Homo sapiens: one gene and its partners. The protein of the gene in region 1 interacts with the protein of each later gene in a pairwise test. Each region holds a gene or a part of one and is shown on either strand. Other genes may lie near its edges.

Region 1 (3,751 bases):
ACACTTCAGCAGGAACTGTGACATTTCCCAATCTCAGTTGCGCACATTTTGTCCTAAAGACTTCTTAGCTCTTTTACTGTCTTCAGTCCCTCTGCTTCACCTCTTGAGTGTGTAGTGGGATTCAGGCAGATAAGAGGGCGAAAGGACAATTCGTCAGAGAGCTCTGGGTCTCCATGAGGGTGGGCAGTCATCAGTCTTTCCCTGGTCCTTATCGTAGTTTGAATTTGGTCCAAGGAATAAGAGAGACACTTGGCACAGCTTCCCTGCCATACCCGCCAGCCAGGCTACTTCCCATAGAGCACGTTAGGCTTGGCCAAGTGAGATCTTCTTGTCAGTGCTTAATCCAGCCTCCCGTTGTTTGTCAGCCCTAGCTGGAGGCCTCACAGGAGTTCCTGTGTCCTTCCAGTTTGATACCAAGTTTAGACCAAGAAAAGTTCCTTTCTGTGGCACACCTGTAGTCTCTTACCTGTCTTTGGTGGTTGTACACGAACAGGCAGATATCCACAACTGCAGAACAAGTGTCATCGTCTCTCTTAAGAAGTTTCAGGGCAGCCTAAAGGCTCACCTTCACCCTACCAGGCCCCCTTTCATAGCCAGGATCTTAGGGATGGAGAAGAAAGATAAGTTCACCTCGTTCACTGAAGTCGCCCCTTGTTTTCAGGTTAGGAAACCCAGGTTCATGTCCAAGTCCCTGGGCAAGTAGCCAGCGTAACTGATTGACCTAAAACAAAGGATGGAGCCCTTGGAGCTCTGCATAGTGAAATGTATGATTTCTTAGTGGAAAACGAGAAAGCCACTGAGGAAGCCCAGAAGGGAACTTAGCATATACAGCCAGCTTTGGGGAAGGGGGAAGCAGTGCCAAGCAAGACAGGTGCTTTTCAGAGACACATGAATCTCTGTCACTCACGGATGTACTCTTTGCCCCAGGTGAAAGTGACGTCCTGCATTTCACCTCCACCACCACGTCGAAGAATCGCATCATCATAACCTGGCACCGGTACCGGCCCCCTGACTACAGGGATCTCATCAGCTTCACCGTTTACTACAAGGAAGCGTGAGTTTCTGCTTTGGGTGATGCCATTCTGTTGACAGGGCTACGAATGGGAGAGGCCAGTCTTTCGATCCTTGAATGGGCTGGCTGAATACAGGGGGTCAGCAGAGTCCCCAGGGAGAGCCACGCCAAACATCCCTACTTCATCCTCATGCACCCTCTCGGGCTGTCCCTGTGATGTCAGTCACAGCCAGTGACAGCCATGATTGGGAAAGTGTTAGCTCGAGGCCTGTCATTCTTTAGTGAGTGATTAGAGGTGTTTGAATAAAATAAACCCAAAATGGGGAAAGCTTGCTTTTTCCAGAATTAGGTCAGTCCAGACTCATGAACGATGATGGGGGACTTCACTGAAATATCGTTTCAGCCTCCTTACCTACTAGGCCTACTCCAGGAACACCCTGCAGGCACGTGGCTCTTTTGTATCATCTTATTCCTGTCTCTCTCTCTGTGTGCCTCTCCCAAGCTGTGGCCCTCTGCTCTAGGTCATGAGCCTTCCAAACAAGCGAAGAAAAGTGGAGAGAGAACAACCTTCATGTCTTGAGCCTTTTGTGACTTCTCCTAGACTCTGTTGGGAGCTTTTCCTGTGTGATCACATGACATTCCCCCATCTAAGCAGCCGAGGCTTATTCCTCCCGACTGCAGCCCTCTTTGATCTCCCTCTTCCTTCCTTTGCCTTCTATATCCAGGTGGCTACCCCGGTCTACTTAGCCATCCCCCTTACCCAGGTCCCATGTTAATCCCATAGTTCTCTCTCCCAGATGTGTGGCTTCCAAAGAGCAGCAACCAGAGGCACCTTATGACAGCATCTTGTACTCTTTCCTCCTGCCAGAGCTGGGGTCCTATGAATGAGAAATTGGGTACTTAGGATTACTAGGCTTTCAGAGTTTGTACACAGGGGAGCCCCTCATGATCTCCCATCCCATGACAGCAGACGGTGTTTTGTTCATGTTTGTTTCAGAAGCCAGCGGCCAGCAGCTGTCCAGCCCTTTTAGCTGATAAATATAAAATACCTACCCAACCATGCATCTGTGCGAAGTACTATATTCTCTGATAGTCACACCAGTGCTTTGGCAATGTCAGCTGGTAATTTCACTGAGGACTTGATGCTGGTTTCTAAGGCAATCTGGAAACTAAATATTTGAATATTATAAGATGCTTAAGCATCAGAATTGTTTATGAGCAATCTGAATTTTAGAAGCTACTTCTGTTTGTCTGTAGGAAAGTCATTTTTCTCCAACAGTTACCTTCTTTCAATATCTGATATTTGCATTAACTGACTATGCTTGTTTTTTTCTTGATGAAAAAATGCTGCAATCAGAAGAGAGAAAAATAGTTTTTGCATATGTTCTTAAGGAATAGTAACTATTGAATCCCAGTAACTGTTGAAGTGGCTCTTCCTGAGGCAGACCATTCAATTCTGTAATGCCCGACTGGGGAAGCCCAGAGTCCAGTCACTTCATTTCTTCTTCTATAAAAGTCTAATTGATTATTTGTTTATTTAGACCTCCCATTATAGAAAGTGTGACATGCTGGGCCTCTGGGGAAGATTTTTGAGGGTTTTGATGTCAGAGCCCCGAACTTTCTCTGAACTTAATTGTCTTTCAGACCCTTTAAGAATGTCACAGAGTATGATGGGCAGGATGCCTGCGGCTCCAACAGCTGGAACATGGTGGACGTGGACCTCCCGCCCAACAAGGACGTGGAGCCCGGCATCTTACTACATGGGCTGAAGCCCTGGACTCAGTACGCCGTTTACGTCAAGGCTGTGACCCTCACCATGGTGGAGAACGACCATATCCGTGGGGCCAAGAGTGAGATCTTGTACATTCGCACCAATGCTTCAGGTATCCATGCCTAGACAAGCCCCCAGCATCCACACTTCTTCGCAAGCTCACTGGCCTTGCTTGTACCAGGTGTCATTGTAGGGTTAGCAGTGAGCTATGCCTGTTGTCTTTCTTGTCAATAGGTAATACTGTGTCATATTCATTTCCCCACTGCTAACACATTAGGCTCTTCTGTGCCATTTTCTGGCCTCGGTACTATCTTCCATCATCTCCTGCTTTGTGCCTGTGAGCCCAGGTCCTCCAGGGTGCTGGGCTGGTTTCATTGGAAGGCCCAGCCTGGAAACAGCCGTCTTCAGCTGCCCTTGTTTCTTGTTTGTTTTGATGTTCAATCCTCCAGGAACTGAAACCATGCTGATCTGTGTTCCACTTAATTCATGTAGCTCACTGGTTTTCCATCTTCATTCTGGAGCTTATAGAGTTCCAAAGAGGTCAACAAAAGTTGAAAGCCTGCAGATGTAGTATGTTGTGGATATTCAGAGTATTCACTGATGATGAGGTTCCTCCTTCCTTTATCTTTAGGTTCTAAACCATCTCATTTCTCAACTCCAGATCTGGAAACAGTAAAAGCAAACGTTAATAGTTTCCAGTATATAAAAACTAGTTTAGAAGTAGGAAAATCCACTTCAGTTTTAAAGACACTGATTGTTTTAGTGTATTGGAGCTTCTATCACAAAAAAACAGTGTAGCCTGGGTGGCTTATAAGCAATAGAAATGTATTTCTCACAGTTCCAGAAGCCACAAAGTGCAAGATCAAGGCGCTGGCAGATTTGGTGTCTGGTGAGGGCCCACTCCCTGGCTCATAGATGGCTGTCTTTTCATTGTGTCCTTGCATGGTGGCAGGGATGCGGGAGCACTC
Region 2 (3,751 bases), on another chromosome or scaffold:
TTCCTTGGTCAGAAGTGAACAACAGAAATGGCCAGCTGAGAATGTGGTAATGGTTTATCTTCTTAGCTGTGTGATGACATCTGGGCTCATCTAAAATCATAGCAGGTGTTCCGAAGATGCTGGCTTGAACTGTGAAGCTTGGGAGACACCACCACAGTAAATATTAGGGTAGCTCCAGGGAGCTGAGAGGTGCCTCCCTTCCTCTGGCATTTGCACAGCTCAGGGCACCATTACTCCCTCTTGAGCTGCAGACAGTATGTGGAAGCTTCTATGTGCTCCACCTCTTAGGCTCTGGTCTGTCAGCTTCCTCTCACCATTTACCTCACTTTGAGGCAAGATTTTCCCCTTCTTGTATGTTCTGGTCAGCACTGGTATTTACATGTCCAACTGGTGAATGAATGGAGACACAGTTTAGAATTTAATAACTGTTTCACCCTAAGTGGGTCAGTGGTGTAATTTAATGGTTGGAGTATATTTACTATGACATTCTGTTCACTAAATCAAGGTTGTTTTAGCCAGTGAAAGTGGGGAAGATGGAGAAGCATACTCATTAATTGTGGGCTGGCAAAATTCTTGCAGGTCTGAAGGCTTCAGGAAAGTATATGAAAAGTTCTCTTACCTCCCACTTAATTTGGAAAATAAAAATGAAAAAAACTGGCATCAGAGGAATTCTTAGAGATCATCCATTCTAGTCACTGACAATATAGCTTTTTTAGAAATCTTGCAATTTTAGAGGCAGCCTTTTCCAAGGTTGGCAGGAAAACTTTTAAGACATCAACATGAATCTGTCCTTTCTAACTTTCACCGCATTGGTCCAACTGAAATAACCCAAAAGACGTCTTAAGGCTCCCCTGTAGTCACACAACAGCTCTCCAAAGGCTGGAAAACAGCCATCAAAGTCCTATAATCTTTTCTTCTTTAGACTAAACATCCTGTGGTCACTCAATATTTCTGTACAGCCTGGTTTTTCTGTCACTCACCACTCTAGTCTCCCTCTTCTACAGGCTATTTTATCAAATATGACCTTCTTAGAGAGTTGTGTCTCCTTCTGATGAGATCTATGAAGCAGGCTTATTTTCTCTTCCAGCTGCACGTTAGAGACCAATAGATCTGTGTTTGCAGGTGCATCAGGTGGTGAGGTCCCCCAGTGCCTACATGGTGCCTGGTTCTCGGTAGTATTTTAAGATACTAACTGACGGTGTAGATTAAATAAAAAGTCAACAAGACTTTTTTTGAATGTGGACATTATAGCTTTCTCCCATCCTGTAATTATGCTACTGGATTTTTGAAACTAAATGCAAGGCTTTCTATTTATTCTTGTTAATTTCAACTTGTTAGTTTCAGCACAATGCTCTTGTTTACTGGATCACTATCTATCGTCAATATATTAGTCTTCCATTTCTCACTCCCAGCGTTGTGTCTCCCAGGTATTTAACAAGGATCCCTTACATCTTTTTATCTAAGGCATTATTAAAAAATAGAAAAAGAGACAAAGTAGGGTCTTTAATATGAGTAAGTTGATATCATGATATATACTATCTAATCCCATTCTATAATTATTTCCAACTAGGTTGTAGGTCCTTTAAAGACCTACAAGCATAATGGCATGGTCTTCTTCTACTTGTAACAATAAAAAGCACTTACGAGTCCTAGGTAAATACTTGTCAAATGAATTACCCAGGTCATGCTATTTTCATGTCATGTGAAAACAGATAAACTCTAGGCTAAAAGAAAGCAAAAGGTATTCCAGGATGCATTCACTGGAGGCTGGTTCAAATTCAGGAACTCATCATAATCATCTCTGAAAATATTAAATAAATGTCCTATTGCATATATTGATATATAGAATAGTCTATTGGCTGGATGCAGTGGCTCATGCCTATAACCCCAGCACTTTGGGAGTGCTGGATGGATCACTCGAGCCCAAAGTGGGAGGATCACTTGAGCCCAGGAGCTCGAGACCAGCCTGGGTAACATAGTTAGACCCTGTCTACAATTTAAAAGAAAAATTAGCTGGACATGGTGGTATATGCCTGTGGTCCCAACTACACAGGAGGTTGAGGCCAGAGGATAGCATTTGCTCTATAACAGGTAATCCATTCTTAGAAAGGTCAACAGAGTCTTCTTTCTTCTTATTTTTGATATGGGGTCTTGCTTTGTTGCCCAGGCTGGAGTGTAGTCATGCAATCACAGCTCACTGCAGCCTTGGCCTCCCAGGCTCAGGTGATTCTCCCACCTCAGCCTCCCAAGTAGCTGGGATGACAGGTGCATGCCACCATACTGAGCTAATTTTTTCTGTGTGTGTGTGTTTTTTGTGTTTGTTTTGTTTGTTTTGTTTTTTAAGAGAGAGAGAGGGTTTTGCCATGTTGCCCAAGCTGGTCTTGAACTCCTAGGCTCAGGCAATCCATCCACCTCAGCCTCCCAAAGTGCTGGGATTACAGGCATGAGCCACCATGCCTGGCAAATGCAGTTTTTTAGATAGGCTGGTCATAGCAAAAAAAGAAACACCTAAGAAGCTAGTACAGTGTCTGTATACAAAATATATTTATGGAATAAATGTATAAAGCTTGGTTAACTATGGAACTCTCAAGAGAGCTCTATAGTTATTCATCCTCAGGAGAGCTCTGACTTGACTCCAGGAAGCTCTTAGGTCAGATAGGTTTCATGGATTTGCTAAAATCTGGATCTATATTACTGATATAAAGTTCCCAATACAAAGTGGTTCTGGGAGGTGAGAAACAAGGGTACTCTTTTTCTTACTTTTTTTTTCTTTTTCTTTTTGGGGCAGGGTCTCACTGTGTCATCCTGGCTGGATCGTGGCTCACTGCAGCCTCAACCTCCCAGGTCAACTGATCTCCTTAGCCTCCCAAGTAGCTGGGACTACAGGTGTGCACCAATATGCATGCACCTTAAATTGCAAACAGAAGTGAAACTTACCTCAGGTTCATATCTGATAAATGCTTATGTTAGAACTAAAACATAACCCCAGCCAATCATAAGCATCCAACTCACATATTGTTATGTCAGTAAGGACTTTCCAATACAGTACCTGAAAAAAGGCAATTATGTAATTGCAAACCAACCAAATAAATTGTTTGTTTCTGTACTTTCCCAATAAATACTTGCCTCTGGCGTTTTGTCATTGGAACACTAAACCTCTTTTGGTCTGGTGTTTCCCAATGTATGACTGGCTTCTTACTAAATAAACTCTTTAAAATTTTATTGTGCGTCAGATATTTCTTTTCCAGTACACGTTTGTTTTCCCAGGAGGTATAATACATTAAGTGAAAATACCTACTGCTAAGCAGGAGTTAGTTTACCAAAAAAGAGTAAGGTCAAATAAAAATGTCAAGAGAACCCCAGCTAGCTGAGAGAATGGTGCCAAGTTCATTACCAGGGGGGACCAGAGTATGTTAAGAGGGAAAAAGACAGCATACACTGTTGTCAAGACAAATTCTGTCTCCACCACTTACTAGATATTTTACCCAACTACACAATCTCTGCAGTGCTCAGTTTTTTCATCTGCAAATGATGCGACAATAAAAACAATAGTTCCTACTTTATAGCATTGTTGTGAGAAATAAATGGGACTATCACTTAACATGTTTAGCACATAGCCAAGCACATATCAATACCATAAATGTCAACTATTATTATTGTTATTGTTATTGTTACTCTTTGGTACCATCTGGTCAAATAGGACTGGTTAGGAGGCTCTGGAGTGAGGCCCCCAAAGACCCTGGAGAACCAA
Region 3 (3,751 bases), on another chromosome or scaffold:
GAGTACACTCAGCAACGACATTCGCTCTCATTTCTTTCATGTATAACATAAAAGCATTCAGAGGCTTCTTAATGTGAGGTCTTTTTGGCTCCTGCTCCTTTCTCTGTTCATGCTGAGGCTTCCTAAAAGGTGGTGGTGGTGGTGGTTAGGGGAAGGGGTTGAAGGAATGAGGAAGGGATGGGGGAGGAGAAAAGCAGAGCACCTGCTCACATGGCTACACTCAGGATGGCGACAACCCTCTCACCCCAGACCACCACCAACTTGGAAGAGCAGTTATTGACTCATTTGACAAAACACTGAGAGGCAAACAACCCATCCAATAGGGCTTCCTATCTACTCAGTGACTGAGAATAAAACCCTTTGGTTTGAGAAAGTGGACCTGTCATTATAGAACTATGAACACCAAGTAGAAATGGACTTGGCATTGTGAAGATGCTCCAGATGGGCTCTGAGGCTGAGGACTTCTCTGGTCCCCTCAGAAGAAGCTGAACACACAGCACAGGTGATCATTCCTCTTTCAGAATAGAGGTTCTTAACTTTTGCAGGGGGTTAAGGAGCACTTTGAGAAGCTAATAAATCTTTAGACCTTTTCCCCCAAACAAATGCATGTTGCCTTTGCATACATTCGCAAGGGCTTTATGGACCATCACATGCTGCCTCTCACCCCCACCCTCCCATCCACAAAACCTAGATTAAGAAACTAATTACTCATCTCTTCAGAGTAAATTAATTTAGGCCTGCACTCACAGTCTGAGACAACCCTGGCCCAACAGGGAATCCTGGGCTTTATTTGTTCCTTTCCCTTGAATTCTGTGCTGTTGAAGCTTGGAGCCAGGGTAACTGCACTTCCAGAAGAAAGTGCATTAAACCCTCCAATCTACTTCACTCAGGTAGGAACAGGTTCTCCCCAATAATCTGAACCAAATGAAAATTCAGTGGTAAATGGCTAAACAGCTGAAGAGTCTCGAATGCCTATGTTCTGAAGATTCTTCCATTTTGGTGAGGTTCCCATGATCTTTTAGGGTCCGTGCTCCTTTGCAACCTCAGAATCAAAATCAGCACAGTAGGAATGAAGCTGCTTAATGTCCTCAGGGACAGAGTTTTCAAGGCAGAGGTGCATTGAGTTTCACAGCAACACAAAGGGGTGAAGGATCACTGTTGCAAAGGAGCAACAGTGTAGAAATCCTCAGTATCCTAAGGCAATCACAGCAGAGCCCGGGTGGATACTTACACGTGCATTAGGTCACTGTCAGTGTGGGGATGTTCCTGTTTGACCTGAGGTGTTACAATAGCTGGATGAGGGATGCCAGTTGTGTGGGGACCAGGAGGACCGGGAATCATATGATGGGAAAACCTGAAAGGAGGAAAGAGAAGAAAACAATGTACTACTGGCTGTTGCAGCAAAAGCTAGATGGAATTTCAAAGCAATCCACTAACTGCTACTGGCTAAGAGTAAAAACACATCTTTACGCACAGAAGCATTAACTATAAATTAGAGTGGGCCGATAATTATTTTTTTCTTTCTATATTCGGGTGGAAAAAAAAAAGTGAATCATTTTTCTTGCAAAGCAATTTTGAAATAGGAATTTCACGAAAAGTAATTATTGGAAATATAACACTTTATTTAAGACTTGACTTTTTAAATGATTTTTAAATGAAAGCAAAACACATCATGTTTTAAAATCTCTGCCTATATTCCTAAGCAAACCATCACAATGGGAATTTTCTCATATTATTGGCTTCCTCATCCATATTAGGAGGGAACAACTGAGAAAACGGATAGGAATCAGTCTCCCATTTAATAAGGTTTCCATTAACATCATCCAAAATGATTTTCTGTGCAGAAATACACTAATGTTTCAGAGATCTCATCTTATGGAAAACTGGTAACAGAAATAAGGAGAAGAATTTAAAGGAAGGATAAAGTTCTGCATCAAGGTTAAAAACTACACTTGCCAAAGGCTTTTTCCCAAGTACGCTTGAACAGCATTAAAAAAAATCTTAAAATATCCACCACCAGCCAACACAAAGGAGGGAAACTGCCAGGCAAGAAAAATAAAATAAAGACAGTATTTTCAATAAGCTCTCTAGATAAATTTGGATATGTTTTAGAAATTTTTGCTTTTCAAACTTTTTAAAGTAAACATTTAATTCAGCAAGAACAACATTCTCAGGTCTTTCATCACAGCCTACACAATTAATTTCCTTTTCTTGAAAGGAACTCTGCTAGGATATATATTTTTCAAAAACAAATTTTAAAATATGAAGGAAGCATGGTAAAAATACAAATATTTGACCAAATAATGATGCTTTGCTAAATGTATTACTTGCAAAAATACATGATGATAGTTATTTGCCTGTGAGAGTTCTATCATCAGATAGTTCTTACAATGTTAAAAAGTATAAAAATATGTTTTAAGGGGAAGGATATTAATTCCACCTCCTCCCACAATCAGCTACATTTACAACTCACTGAAAAAAAAAGTTTTTTTAAAGCTGTAATTCACCACAGAAACTTTGAATACTATACCCATATAAAAAAGACATATTCACAACCAGTTAATAACCCACCAGTTTGACTTCCGGCACAATAATGCTAGCTCCCTTGACAAAGCCACATCGAACACACAGATGATGCACCCCAAATGTGTGTGTACATCAAGCACAGGGCACAGTGCCATCCTCTCCAGAAGCAAAAGCATCACACACAGCAGCTTCTCGGTGCGGCGCGGCAGGCCTCCCGAGCTCCGCTGGCATGACCATGTCCACACAGGGCCTGATTCACACACTAGGACGCACACCCTGTATGGCCTGCCAGCCTGTCCGCACTGTTCTGTCTCTTCTGACAGCCTCCATCCAGGAAGGCTCTAGACTATCTGGGCATTTTCAAACACTGCCGCATCAAACTGATACAACTTTCCACAAAGGAAGCAAATTATAGAGCTGAGACCAAACCAGTTTTATCCTCCTCCCTTACCCCACCCCCGGCATATTTTGAATCAAACAAACTCTTCTTGTAATGTCCGCTTTCCGGACAGTTCCCATCCCACAGTCAGGCGGCCATGAATTTGTTTGGAGGCAACGCTTTCCAAGGAGGCTGAGTCCATCGCCCGATGGTGTGGCTGGTCCGGCCGGGGCACAGCGCAGAGCTCCTACCCGGGACTCTCTCTGACACCTAGTGTGGGAGCCAGGCACACTGCACAGACAGACACATGGCTGAGGTATGCACCCTCCTAGCCAACCAAAAGGCAAGCAGAGGCGCACAGGATGCAAGCACGAGAAGAGCAACTTGTCCTCGAGCGCCCCAGTTTCCACCTCCACCTACCTGGACATGGAAGTGTCGACTGACAGTGAGGATGGGTAGGGTTGCCTGAATCCACCCGTGATGGGATATACAGGCTGACCTTGCCTGAGGTCACAGAAGAAAGGAACCCATCAATGACAAAACACCAGTTACCAACCAGTAGTAAGAGTTGGATGAGGGGAGAAGAGGGAGATATTCAAACAGAATCTTGTGGAAGTATTACAGACCCCGGGATTGTTTCAGAAACGTAACCGTTCCCCTTCCTTACCCTCCACCCAATCAAAGTGTCATTTGCCTTGAAAGAAATCTCCCACCCTCAACTTTGAAACAAACCATCCATGAATTACATCTCTTTTATCCCATCCCCTCTCCCAACCCCATTAATGCTTTGAACAAAGTAAGCACTTAAATGTTTATTGAATATAACATAACCCTGAGAATAGTGAA

What was found.
Region 2: the proteins of IGF1R (region 1) and PTPRR interact in a two-hybrid assay, tested with the Homo sapiens proteins (one study listed by BioGRID and IntAct).
Region 3: the proteins of IGF1R (region 1) and LEF1 interact in binary tests that used the Homo sapiens proteins (3 or more experiments, as listed by UniProt).

What each region holds. Positions count from the first base shown.
Region 1 is NC_000015.10:98,910,388-98,914,138, forward strand, and holds part of IGF1R (insulin-like growth factor 1 receptor isoform 1 precursor), read left to right. Parts: intron 1-927; coding exon 928-1,054; intron 1,055-2,656; coding exon 2,657-2,895; intron 2,896-3,751. UniProt on the Homo sapiens protein: Receptor tyrosine kinase which mediates actions of insulin-like growth factor 1 (IGF1). Binds IGF1 with high affinity and IGF2 and insulin (INS) with a lower affinity. The activated IGF1R is involved in cell growth and survival control.
Region 2 is NC_000012.12:70,641,012-70,644,762, forward strand, and holds part of PTPRR (receptor-type tyrosine-protein phosphatase R isoform 1 precursor), read right to left. Parts: intron 1-3,751. UniProt on the Homo sapiens protein: Sequesters mitogen-activated protein kinases (MAPKs) such as MAPK1, MAPK3 and MAPK14 in the cytoplasm in an inactive form.
Region 3 is NC_000004.12:108,078,261-108,082,011, forward strand, and holds part of LEF1 (lymphoid enhancer-binding factor 1), read right to left. Parts: intron 3,410-3,751; coding exon 3,326-3,409; intron 1,355-3,325; coding exon 1,232-1,354; intron 123-1,231; coding exon 1-122. UniProt on the Homo sapiens protein: Transcription factor that binds DNA in a sequence-specific manner. Participates in the Wnt signaling pathway. Activates transcription of target genes in the presence of CTNNB1 and EP300.